Linked DNA regions of Homo sapiens: all the other regions are linked to region 2. The links come from fine-mapping of genetic effects on gene expression. A gene starts in region 2. Each other region holds a variant in brackets. All regions are shown on one strand. Distances are between the middles of the regions.

Region 1 (4,243 bases), 28 kb before region 2:
AACCTGGGACATTGTCCTGTTTGCCTTACCCATTACCCAGCCTCTGCCCTTGTGTGGCTCTCCCCCGTCCCCCCCAGTGTGTTGGAAACAAACACTATCCACTTCTTTAATCACCACACTATGTAGAGCCAGCAGTGGGTTTATTTTTTATTGTGGTAAAATACACATAAAACTTACCATTTCAGCCATTTTAAAGTGTACATGCATTTAGTACATTCGCAGTGTGCAACCATCACTGTTGTCTAGTTCCAGAACATTTTTATCAGATGTGAACCCTGTACCCATTAAGTAGTCATTCCCCATTCCCCGCTGCTGCCCAGCCCCTAGCAACTACTAGTCTGCACTCTATGTCTTTGAACTTTTGCCTGAAGATATGAAGTCGTATCTCACTGTGGTTTTGGTTTGTACTTTTCCAATGACCAGTAATGTTGAGGATCCTTCCATATGTTTGTCATCCACTTGTGTATTTATGTATTCTTTTTGGAGAAATGTCTATTTAACTCCTTTGTCCATTTTAAAATTAGGTTGTTTGTGGTTTTGTTCCTCAGTTGTAAGAGTTGTTTATATATTCTGGACACTGGACCATTATCAGATATATGATTTGCAAATATTTTTGCCCCTTGTGTGGGCTTTTTACTCTCTTGATAATGTCCTTTTCCGCACAAATGTTTTTTTTTTTTTATTTTGATGAAGTCCAGTTTATCTGTTTTTTTTGTTGTTGTTGTTGTTGTTGTTGTTGTTACTTGTGAGATTTACCCCAATGTTTTGTTCTAAAGGTTCTATAGTTTTAGCTTTTACAGTTAGGTCTATTAACCCTTTTTGAGTTCATTTTTGTGTGTGGTGTGAGACAGGTGTCCACCTTCATTCTTTCTTGTTGTTATTGTTGTTGTTTTTTGTTTGAGACAGCGTCTCGCTCTGTCGCCCAGGCTGGAGTGCAGTGGCATGATCTCGGGTCACTGCAAGCTCTGCCTCCTGGGTTCATGCCATTCTCCTGCCTCAGCCTCCCAAGTAGCTGGGACTACAGGTGTCTGCCACCATGCCCAGCTAATTTTTTGTGTTTTTAGTAGAGACGGAGTTTCATCATGTCAGCCAGGATGGTCTCCATCTCCTGACCTCATGATCCGCCCACCTCAGCCTCCCAAAGTGCTGGGATTACAGGCGTGAGCCACCACTCCTGGCCCCACCTTCATTCTTTTGCATGTGGATGTCCAGTTGTTCTAGCACTATTAGTTAAACAGACTATTCTTTCTTCATAGAATGGTCTAGGCACCCTTGTCAAAAACTAATTGACAATACATGTATGGCTTTATTTCTGGATTTTCAATTCTACTCCATTCACTTATATGTCTATCCTTGTACTAGTGCCACACCATATTGATCACTGTAGCTTTGTAATGAGTTTTGAAATACGGAAGTCCTCCAACTTCTTTCTTCTTTTTCAAGATTGTTTTAGTCTTGCAGTTGAATAGGTCTCTTGCAGTTATATGTGAATTTTAGGATCAACTTTTCCATTTATGTAAAAAAGGCTTGAGGCCAGTGTTTTAATAGAGGCCCTAAGTCTTTTATGCTCAAAGGCCTTCCTCTTGGCATACTGTGAGATCTTACTGTTGGCCGACCACTTTACTAAGCAGCCCAGTGATCAATGTAGGTAACAATTTGAAATCAACACTGACTGGTTAGCCATCCCTGAAAGTGAAATTTGGATATTGCCCAAAAGGTTCAATAGAATTAGTTCTATGATTTTAGCCAAGCCCTGCTTCTAAATATACTTCCTTTAAAGTACATATTTGAAAAAATCTTGATACTAACAGATAATTACAAAGTGCAGCATTGACAGGGAACCTGAAAACTGAGTCTTTTTCTTGCAGGCAAGGAAACTAAAGTCTAAAAGTACCAGTATCAGTCCATGGCCTGTTAGGAACCAGGCGACACAGCAGGAGGGGAGCAAGTGAAGCTTCATCCTGTATTTACAGCTGCTCCCCATTGCTGGCATTAACACCTGAGCTCCACCTCCTGTCAGATCAGTGGCAGCAGTAGATTCTCATAGGAGTATGAACCCTATTGTGAGCTCCACATGCAAGGGATCTAGGTTGCACACTCCTTATGAGAATCTAATGCCTGATGATCACTGTCTCCCATCACCCACAGATGGGACTGTCTAGTTGTAGGAAAACAAGCTCAGGGCATCCACTCATTCTGTATTATGGTGAGTTGTATAATTATTTCATTATATATTACAATGCAATAATAATAGAAA[C/T]AAAGTGCACAATAAATGTAACGCACTTGAATCATCTTCCCGAAACCATCCCCCACCCTGTCCATGGAAAAATTGTCTTCCACAAAACCTGTCCCTGGTGCCAAAAGGGTTGGGGACCACTCCTTTAAAATATTGATTTGAACTCTCATGAGGATGACTTTTTTGATTTGAACACTCTCATCAGGATGACTTTTTTCCAAGCTAATAAACCGAATTTGTAACTCAAGCATAAGATATAGTTCTTGAGATTCATTAGAGAACCAAATTTAACTAAAATCGGACAATGACTTTTATAAGTTATGAAGTGGACAGACATGAAATGCAGAGCAATTGGGATGTGAAAATACCTAGCTTTTCTCTATCAAAAAACTATTCTGCTTTTTTGTGAAACAGATTGTGTTCTTAACTTTCAGAAATGCCCTTATGTTTAATTACAATGTCACTAGTTTTCCAGTCATGAGTAACTCATCTTCATGGAGGCCCCCACAGTAGCAGAATTTGAGGCATTGTTAATCATTATGTTTGTAAATTTAATTCCATGCTAGTCTCATAATTCTTACTCATCAGATGAAGATGAAGATGATGATAATAGCAAACACCTATGTAGTGCTTACCATGGCCAGGGACAGTTTTTATATACTGTGCAAATGCAAAGTGTTCCAGAATTCCAAACCTTTTGAGAGCTGACAGTGGTCAAAGGAAATGCTCTTTGGAGCGTTTTGAATTTTCGGATTTAGGATGCTGAAGCAGTAAGTATATAATGCAAATGTTCCAAAATCTGAAAAGATAAAAAATCTGAAACACTTTTGGGCCCAAGCATTTTGAAAAAGGGACCCACAATCTGTAAAGAGAGAAAGAGAATAACATGTGCATATATATATATTAAAATAAACATGTATAAAATATGTATGTAATATTCTCAGCAACCCCAAGAGAGTGGAGGTTATTATCAGTATTTTACAGATGAGGAAACTAGGCACAGAACAGGTATAAACCTTTTCCTGGGTAACACAGTTACTAAGTGGAGCAGAGATTCAAACCCACATGATTTGAAATCCTCCAGGGCCCACACTCTTGATCATAAAGTTTTACAACTTGTCGAGGGCAAGGTCATTGTTCTTTGCATTCTTAGGAATCTTAGAATAAATAATGAGAATTATTAGCTGAGCAGTTACTGAGTAACGGAGGCTGGAGCATCTTTCCAGGCCAAAGAGGAGGGACAAAGGGCACATATCGGAGTAGGAAGAAACATTTATTTCTTTTTCCCTTGTGTATGTTTATAGAATAGAGAACCTCAGTTTGGGCTATTGCTATTTTTCTAATACTACCAAGCACAGGGATATTTAAAAAAAAAAAAAAAAAAAAAAAAAACCTGGTCGAGGAATCCTAAAAACCTAGTCGAGGGGTCTTAGGGATGACATAGGGTTATAGCCTCAATCTATCACTTATTAACCATGGAACTCAGCAAGTTGCCTCGCCATCAGTTTTCTCCTCCATAATATAGAGGAGAGGGGAAAGGAAGGGCTATGATGATCACATGAAATTATAATTAATACCACATAAATTATATAAAACTATGCAGTTGTCAACCTTTCATTATAACTTATGATTCAACTTAAAATATGTGATCCTTATGGCCTTAATTAAGCTTAGTTTCCCACAAAAGTATGTGTGTTTAAGTAGAAGGCAATATTTGTGGTTTTTAATCATACTTAGCTGCTTGAGTGCTTAAATTGTCATCTCTTAAGAATTTCCTGTCACATGATTAAGTTTAGGTTCCATGATCCCAGCTGAAAGATTTCCTTGTTTTTTGGTCCAAACTAGCAGGAGCACTAAATGGCTAAGGTGATATTTGAGGTCTGGAGCTAATAATGTAAATTATCTTGTTAGGATGTTAAATACTGAAAATATTCCTTAGTTTCCACAAACACTGATTGCTTTTCAACCTTGGGCACAGTATAAGCAGATGACAGAGGGGGAGCTTCA
Region 2 (4,243 bases):
TGTGGTGGTATTATTCCATTCTTATTTTAAGGATATACATATATGCAATTTGTATGTGGATATGATTTTTTGAATGGTGAACAGAAACTTAGTGGTCAGGTAGCTGGATGCGGTGGCTCATGCCTGTAATCCCAGCACTTTGGGAGGCTAAGGCGGGTGGATCACCTGAGTTCAGGAGTTTGAGGCCAACCTGGCCAATATGGTGAAACCCAGTCTCTACTAAAAATACAAAAAATTAGCCAGGCGCGGTGGTAGGCGCCTGTAATCCCAAGTACTCGGGAGGCTGAGGCAGGAGAATCGCTTGAACCCAGGAGACGGAGGTTGCTGTGAGCCGAGTCCGCGCCATTGCACTCCAGCCTGGGCAACAAGAGTGAAACTCCGCCTCAGGAAAAAAAAGAAAGAAAGAAAATAAGAAAGACAGAGAGAGAGAGAGAGGAAGGAAGGAAGAGAGGAAGGAAGGAAGGAAGAGAGGGAGGGAGGAAGGAAGGAAGGAAGGAAGGAAGGAAGGAAGGAAGGAAGGAGGGGAAACTTAGTGGTCAGATGGCAACTAGGGGAGGGGAGGCAGAAGGTAATTTATTTTTCATTTCATATCCTTCAACTATCAGAAATTTTGTCATATGTGTTTATATTTTCCACTGTGTTTCATTGATTCTAAAATGCCTTTTCTTCATAACCCTGAAATTGGAGTGTTTCTTACAATCATTGGTATGTCACATTTTTTTCTGGCTTGTGGTAATGGGTTAAAATGATAAATTGTAAAATCAATGACGTCTTAGGAATAATGAAAAATAGTTTAATAGTGAATGAAGAACTATGTAATTTTAACTGTTCACATTTACTCTTGGGTATGTTTCCAGAGGATAACTGAACGGGGATAGATTTTAAAAAGCTTTATTTAACTGGGTACTTCCGCAATTTAGTGATCAACTTCTGTGTACAACAAGGTACTGTCCTTTGAGGATGATGGGAGAATACAGGGAAGAACGAAATCGCCTCTGATCGTACTTTCTCCACGGATGTAAGTGTCCGGGCTCTAGTGGGGGAATGATACTCTTCGTGCGAAATTCACTTTTAAAAAAGGCTTAGAAAACTGACCACCGGCTCTCAGCTGCAGCTTATCAACCACAGAACTCCGAATATGCCCGCACATCAGTGCGCTGGGTTAAGAGGAGAAGGGGCTGCGGCTGAGCTTTCCTAGAAACAGCTATTTGGGGACCCATTTCCTGTTGGAGTCTGAAAGGCGCACGCACCAGAGCCAGTGGCAAAGCAACTTAAGCTGCAGGCTCCTCCTGCCCACCCCCAGCCGCGACGCCCCTGGGGGCCCTTAGCAGACTGCCAAGCGAGTGTCCCCGCCCTGTGCCTTGAATTTAGCCAAACTCCTTTAATATCAGGCCTGGCGCGGTGATTCACGCCTGTAATCCCCGCACTTTAGGAGGCTGAGGCAGGAGGATCGCTTGAGGCCAGCAGTGAAATTAGCCGGACATGGTGGCGCGCGCCTTTCTGTGGTCCCAGGTAATCCGGAGGCTGGGGCGAAAGGGTGGCCTGAGCCAGGGAGATCGAGGCTGCAGTGAGCCGTGTTGGCGCCACTGCACTCCAGCCTGGGCGACAGGGCAAGACCCTGCCTCAAAAACAAAACAAACTGTAATATCGTTCAAGAACGTGTGAAGGACACTTGGAAAGTTACCAGGCCATTTCTCTCCTGGGCGCCCGCGGCCCTAGAACGCCGGCCTCACCGGCAGACGCGCGCCCTCCTCCCAGATGCGCAGGTGACCCCGGCGGGCGGCGCGGGAAAGGGAAGAGCTCCGCGAGGCCGCGCGGGGGGGAAGCGGGAGAAGCCGCTCTTCCTATTCCACTCGCAGTCTGCGTGTGGGGGAAACGAGTGCCCGGCGTATGAAACGCCTAACTTCGCGAAATAAAGAGAGACGTATAAAAGTTCAAGAATTCTGTCCAGACTCAAGGGCCCTTTCTCATTTAGGGGCAACCCTGTCACTACATCATAAACTTTTAAATCCGTGATCCCCACGTTACAAAAGCAGAAGTCCCTTTTAGACTTTTAGCGAAAACTGAACTTTGCCGGTGTCCCACACGGAGGGAGGGAGGACGGGAGGCCACGCCAGGGCTGCGGGGCTGCAGGGCGTGGACGCATCCTGGCCGGGGCGTCCACTGTCGACGTCTCCACATCCCAGGAGGGTCGAGACGGCCGCGGGAAGCAGCCTGCGAGCCGTGCGGCCCCATTCCAAGGACCCCGCCAGTGTGAGTCACTGACAGCTTCGCGAATCAACGGTGCCCAGAGGAAAAAACTTCTCATTTGGACTTCTAGGCCCGGCAGTGGCCGGCGGCCAGGGCCCCCCAGTAGGGCAGGGCGGGGCGGGGCGGGGCGCACAGAGCCAGAGGGGCTTGCGAGCGGCGGCTGAGGGACCGCGGGGAGGGGGCGCCGAGCGGCTCCAGCGCAGAGACTCTCACTGCACGCCGGAGGGCGCCCTTCCTCGCTCGCGCCCGCGCGACCGCGCGCCCCAGTCCCGCCCCGCCCCGCTAACCGCCCCAGACACAGCGCTCGCCGAGGGTCGCTTGGACCCTGATCTTACCCGTGGGCACCCTGCGCTCTGCCTGCCGCGAAGACCGGCTCCCCGACCCGCAGAAGTCAGGAGAGAGGGTGAAGCGGAGCAGCCCGAGGCGGGGCAGCCTCCCGGAGCAGCGCCGCGCAGAGCCCGGGACAATGGGGCCGCGGCGGCTGCTGCTGGTGGCCGCCTGCTTCAGTCTGTGCGGCCCGCTGTTGTCTGCCCGCACCCGGGCCCGCAGGCCAGGTGAGAGATGCACGGGAATGGGGTGCGCGGGCGGAGGGACGCCGAGGGGAGACTGCGGGGGTCACTGTTGCGCCTTCTCCTCACCCCTGCCTCAGTTTCCTCCGAAAGCCAAACTGGCATTTGGGCTGAGATCTGGAGTTTTTTCCAGTCACGTTTAGGTGGGGCGTGCCACCCCCTTCGCGGGCCCAGCCGATGCCCCTTTGGACTCGATCTTGGAGGGTGCAGCCCGCCTGCCACGGGGTGTTGGATATGGAGGAGGATGGAGCGGAAGCCCCCTGGGGGAGCCTGCAGTCCTGCGTTGCACTTGTCATTGTGTTTCTCCCAGGACCACCCCCAAAAAGAAAAGCTCTCACGTTGCTCCACCAATAAACGTTTCGATCTTTAAAATATAAAGTGGCGAACCGCTGCCGCTGAAGTTTTGCTTTGTTGGAAGTTTTTTTCTTGCACATTTTACAGGCGAGAAAAGTGATGTAGAGAAAAGCCCAGGCAGTCCCTTGGCATGTTTAGCAGAGAATCAGTACCAGCAGCCCCCGGCCCGGCCTTGTGTCCAGGAGGTGCGCAGGGTGCGAGATATATGGTGACAATAGCAGAGGCTCCGCGTGGTGGCGGGGGAGGGGACATGGAGAGGATTTTGTTGTTACCTAGAACCCATTCCTTCTAAGTGAGTTGAAGAGAGAGATCCCTCCCCAGGACCGGGCTCCCTCGAACACTGTGGGATCCCAGTATTTCTTAACGAGATTTCTGATCCACTGCAAGAAGGTTGCTCCCCTAGAATATTTTCCCCACTAGTAGTCTATTTTTAAGTATCTGGCCACTTGACCAAATAAATAAATTTGATTAATTTATTTGGTCAAATATTTTCTGTATCCCTTTCCCCAAGAGCAGCACAGATGAGTTGTTTTTAGCCTGTAAAGGCGCTAATTAGAAAGTGAGAAAAGTGTTTTTGAATTTCCTAATAACAATAGTATTTTATAAGCTTTGAGCCATTTTTTTTACGCTGAAAGAAGTTCTAGCGGGTTTTCTTGTTATCGCTAAAAGAATGTGCACTCTATATTGCTCCCACACTCAAAAAAAAGTGTAGACACATCAAGATTAAGAGGTGACAAAGACATAGCATGTTCTCGCCTCTCTGTCTTTGTTCAGGGTGAGTTTTGAGATGCTTTTGGGAAAACTAAGAGCTCCAGACTGGGGCCCAGTGTTTAGCAGTAACTAGCCTGCCTGCAGATAAGTGAGCATTGTTGCCGAAAGTGTTTGAGAGAACACCGAGAACTCCTGAAAAATTGTTTGCGATGAGATATGATTTCACATACCATTATGTAATTTGCACAATGTAGTTTGAGGACACGCTCTTGAGAATCCAGTGTTTTGTTTGAGATTTGGATCATGGGGTGGAGAACAGAGCTTATAGAAATGCTGCACCCTTTCTCACAGTGGCCTCC
Region 3 (4,243 bases), 39 kb after region 2:
GCTTGAGCCTGGGCGGTAGAGGTTGCAGTGAGCCAAGGCTGAACTGCACTCCAGCCTATGCGACAAAGTGAGACCCTGTCTCAGAAAAAAAAAAAAGGCTTCTGAGGAGGAAGATAAACCTTGTGTTTCCAGAATGCTTATAGGACATTTGTAGGCTGTGTTGCCATCTTTTTTCTTCTTGGCCACAATACGTACAAGCCCGATTATCCACTGCTTTCTAGCTCCCAGCAGACTCGAGTTAGTTGTTAAGAAGGAACCATGCTGCTGGAGGCAGAGGCACTACCCACATCCACATATAAAAGAGAGAGAGACAGAAGAACAATGAAAAGCAGAGACGAGCACTCAGAAATGTACAAGAAAATACAAATACATCGATCAAATAGAATGAGGTTGAAAAGTAGATCCACTTTCATGAGTGTACTTTTTGATAAAGAAGGCATTCCATATTAATTGTGAAAGGATACAAATAAATAGCATTGGCTGGGTGGGGTGGCTCACTCTTGTAATCTCAGCCCTTTGGGAGGCCCAGGCGGGTGGATCACTTGAGGTCAGGAGTTCGAGACCAGCTTGGCCATCATGGTGAAACTCCATCTCTAGTAAAAATACAAAAAATTAGGCGGGCGCGGTGGCAGGCGCCTGTAATCCCAGTTACTCGGGAGGCTAAGGCAGAAGAACCACTTGAACCCAGGAGGCAGAGGTTGCAGTGAGCCAAGATCGTGCCACTGCACTCAAGCCTGGGCAACAAAAGCAAAACTCTGTCTCAATAAATAAATAAATAAAAGCATTAAAGAATTGGCTATGCATTTTGGGAGGAGAAAAAATTAGATCCTTACTTTATGCTGCCACATAAATTCCAGGTTAATTAAAAGAGGAAAACATGAAAAACAAGACTCCAGACAAATTAAAAGGAAACATAAGTGAATGTGGTTATAACTTTGGGATAGCATAGACTTCCTTAAGCAAAGAAGCCATAAAATGGATAAATTTCACTAAATAAGCTTTCAAAACATCCAGCTGGCAAAAAAGAACCATAAACAACTTTCAAAAGACAAACTATAGAATGGAAGAAACTATTTCTGGCATATATAACAGACAAAATATTAATAGCCATAATAACATAACAGTGCCTATAAATAATAATAAGAAAGACCAAACCTAATAATATGGAAAATGAATATTTTTATAAGATCAGGTATGAACAGGAATTTCACTGAATACAAATGACTAATAATCATATGAAAATATGTTCAATCTCAACAGCTAAAATGAGTTCTTTTTCACCCTGATTGGCAAAAATAAAAGATTTATAACATCCAATATGGGTGAAGATATGGAGAAATGGAAGCTGTCATTCTCAGTTGAAGAGAATAAATGGATATAGCCTTTTCAGAAAGAAATTTTATTCTATCAAAAATTTTGACTTGCATTCTCTACCACCCACCAATTCCACTGTCAACATCTATTCCAGAAAAACATCCAGAAAAAATAAGGAAATAAGTGGCATAACAATTTCAAAGAAAGAGTTTAAATTGTCCTCAATTCCAGGGAATATACAGAGAAACATCTTCATATGCACAAAATGGCAAGAACGCAAAATATTTCCTTGAGCAATGTCTGCACTAGGAAAAAACTGGAAACCTCAATGTCCATCAGTAAATTATGGCACATCTATAAGATGAGAATGAAAAAGAATGAGACAATTTAATGCATATAGAGTTTATGTTGGGTTGATGAAAATGTTTTGGTTATAAACAGTGGTTTAATATAGATATATACATGTATCTATATACAACACAAAAACAAAGCTACATATTTCTAAAGGTATACATATATATGTACAGATACCTTTAACATGGTTGGGAAGAATATACCCAAATCACTGTTATGCTTTGTTATCCACTAGGAAAGTGAGATTCATGGGCAGGGTCAAAGGGAATGTTTGCTTTAATGTATTGGGTAAACCTTTTATGAGAGAATGTACTCAAATGTTTACCTCTATGATTTAAATTTTCATTTCAAGAAAAACAAAATGCATGTATTGACATGGAAAATTATTTATTCATTCTTTCAATAGTATTCACTGGAAATATAAAACAAACTCAGAAGTTTCAAGGGCCTGTGGTTTAAAACAAACCATTCTATCACCTTGCTAGCAGGAGCAACAAAGGAAGTTAAAATGACTGATGCTCATTATG[G/A]TGCTGCTTAGCCGTGAAGAAAGGACTAAATTATGCTCCATGTACTGTGTTGGAAAATTTCAGGAGTCTAAAGTGAGTCTGGGGATTAATAAATGCAACAGACACTGTCAGTGCTCTGCTCACATTCCTTGAACCTCACTGATTTATTATCCTCTGGCTGGTTTCCAACTGCCCAAATCCATACCTGAAGGTTTTTCTGAAACCAGAAGGCTTATTTCCCGGACACAGTTGCACTCATCAGCAGCCCAAGAGTGCCAGGGAATGAACACACCCTGCTCCCCTGGGAGCAGCACTAATAACCCTCAGGCATTGGTGTGCAAATCCATTAGCTCCCATGCCCCTTGAGTGAGATCTTACACAGTCTCCCAGAGTGGCCAACTAGGTGAGGCTCCAGTCACCCACTGTGCTAACGGGGTTGGTAGCATAGCCTTTAGTGGCTGCTATCCCATCTTTATCATTTCCCCACTTCCCTAGAGGTGCTTCCTGCACGTCCCAGGTAAACTAGTTGTGTTCTTCCAGAGGTAGAGCCTGTCTCAAGATCCGCCTCTGGAAGAATCTACATGAAGGGTATCCAATCCTTTGGCTTCCCTGGGCCACACTGGAAGAAGAAGGACAGTCTTGGGCCGCACATAAAATGCACTGACACTAACAATAGCTGATGAGCTTAAAACAAAATTGCAAAAAAAAAAATCTCATAATGTTTTAAGAAAGTTTACAAATTTGTGTTGGGCCCCATTCAAAGCTGCCCTGGGCTGTGGGTTGGACAATCTTAATCTACACCAGCGCAGAAGGGTAAGCTTCAGTTATGTGAATATTCCTGCATTTGAAACAAGACTTTTTTTCCAATGTTACTGAAAAATGAGGTGTCACTATATACACACACACACACACACCCCAAAATGCTTTTCTGGGCTAGCTTTCTACCCTGCTCCTTGCTTCCCTTCCAGCCTGTCTTCCAACAGTTCAGCTCAGAGTTTATTTAGGGATAACCAGGTATTTTCTTTTGAATTCTCTCAGACTGCAGAGTTGAACAATCTCACAACGGCCAGGTCTACAGCATTCAGATGTCACCTAAGTTTCTGCAAAATGGCCTAAAAACCTCAAGGTCCCATTACTAGAAGGACTTAGTGAACCTTTCCAGGTGGAGTTTTTCTGCTCTTGGCTGTTTGGATCCTGGTCCTTGGGTGTTGCTAGACAGCACTCAGAGCCTGGTGGCTCCTGTTACTGAATTCAGTTCCCTCAAGAGAGGCTGGGCTGCAGCTGCTGCAGTGGGTGGGCACCCTTCCAGCCTCCGTCCACCTCAGTCCTCTGTGCCCCAGGTAGGCCTCTGTGGCCTCATTCCTTGTGTCATCAGTAGACGGTTGACAGTTGTGACTGCAAGTTGTCCAGGATCTTGGCATCTTGAACAAAGAATTGGACAAAATGCCTAGCAAAGCAAAGAGTGAAGCAACGAAAGAACAAAAGCAGGAATTTATTGAAAATGAAAGCACACTCCACAGTGTGGGAGTGCGCGGAGCAGCAGCTCAAGGGCCCGGACACAGAATCTTCTTGGGTCCAATACCCCTAGAAGTTTCCCATTGGCCACCTGATGCTCACCTCATGTAAATAAAGTGGTAGCCCACAATCAGTCTGATTGGTTGCAGAAGGCAGCCAAACAGAGGCTGAAATGGTTACAAAGGTCACACTCCTGTGCAAACATCTGATTGGTTGCAAAAAGCAGCTAGTCAGAGGCTAGGGTGAAGTTACAAAGTTATACTTCTATGCAAACGAAGACTTCGCCCAAAATCAGTCTGATTGTGGACAGCAACCATTCAGAGGCTGGAGTGAAGTTACAAAGTTGCAAACCAAGGCTGGACCTGCAATCAGTCTGATTTGTTGAGTACAGCCAATTTCCCATCTGCGGCAACTCGGCAACTCGACACTAAAAAGGTGAGGGTTTACAAAGGGAGTAGGTCATTTTGTTACTTAGGGGTGGAAAGTTAGGGTTTTCCTTTCAGTTTAGTTCTAGGAAGTCGACTTGAAACAGCCCTAGTTTCCCTGTCTCCAGA

Which allele goes with the higher level. Positions count from the first base shown, and alleles are read on the strand shown. Sizes are in standard deviations (SD) of each study's normalised expression. Not every link is listed here.
In carriers of allele T in region 1, the expression in aorta of the gene that starts at base 2,535 in region 2 tends to be lower than with C alone (small effect, 0.25 SD a copy in GTEx).

Evidence for each region. PIP is the estimated chance that this variant, and not a neighbour inherited with it, causes the effect.
Region 1: its variant is the best candidate, but not a certain one, in a credible set for the expression of F2R in aorta (GTEx, PIP 0.86).
Region 3: its variant is the best candidate, but not a certain one, in a credible set for the expression of F2R in whole blood (TOPMed, PIP 0.59).

The regions. Positions count from the first base shown.
Region 1 is chr5:76,685,629-76,689,871 of GRCh38, forward strand. The region is part of intron 30 of IQGAP2 (IQ motif containing GTPase activating protein 2); the gene reads left to right. Among named protein-coding and RNA genes, the nearest start is that of NCRUPAR, 25 kb to the right of the region's middle. The variant C/T (reference allele first, on the strand shown) is at 2,258.
Region 2 is chr5:76,713,592-76,717,834 of GRCh38, forward strand. It overlaps F2R (coagulation factor II thrombin receptor), which reads left to right and starts at 2,535. Exons shown (of 2, transcript NM_001992.5): 1 at 2,535-2,804. The coding sequence starts at 2,717. RefSeq lists a silencer at 2,341-2,590.
Region 3 is chr5:76,752,471-76,756,713 of GRCh38, forward strand. No RefSeq gene overlaps it. Among named protein-coding and RNA genes, the nearest start is that of F2R, 38 kb to the left of the region's middle. The variant G/A (reference allele first, on the strand shown) is at 2,196.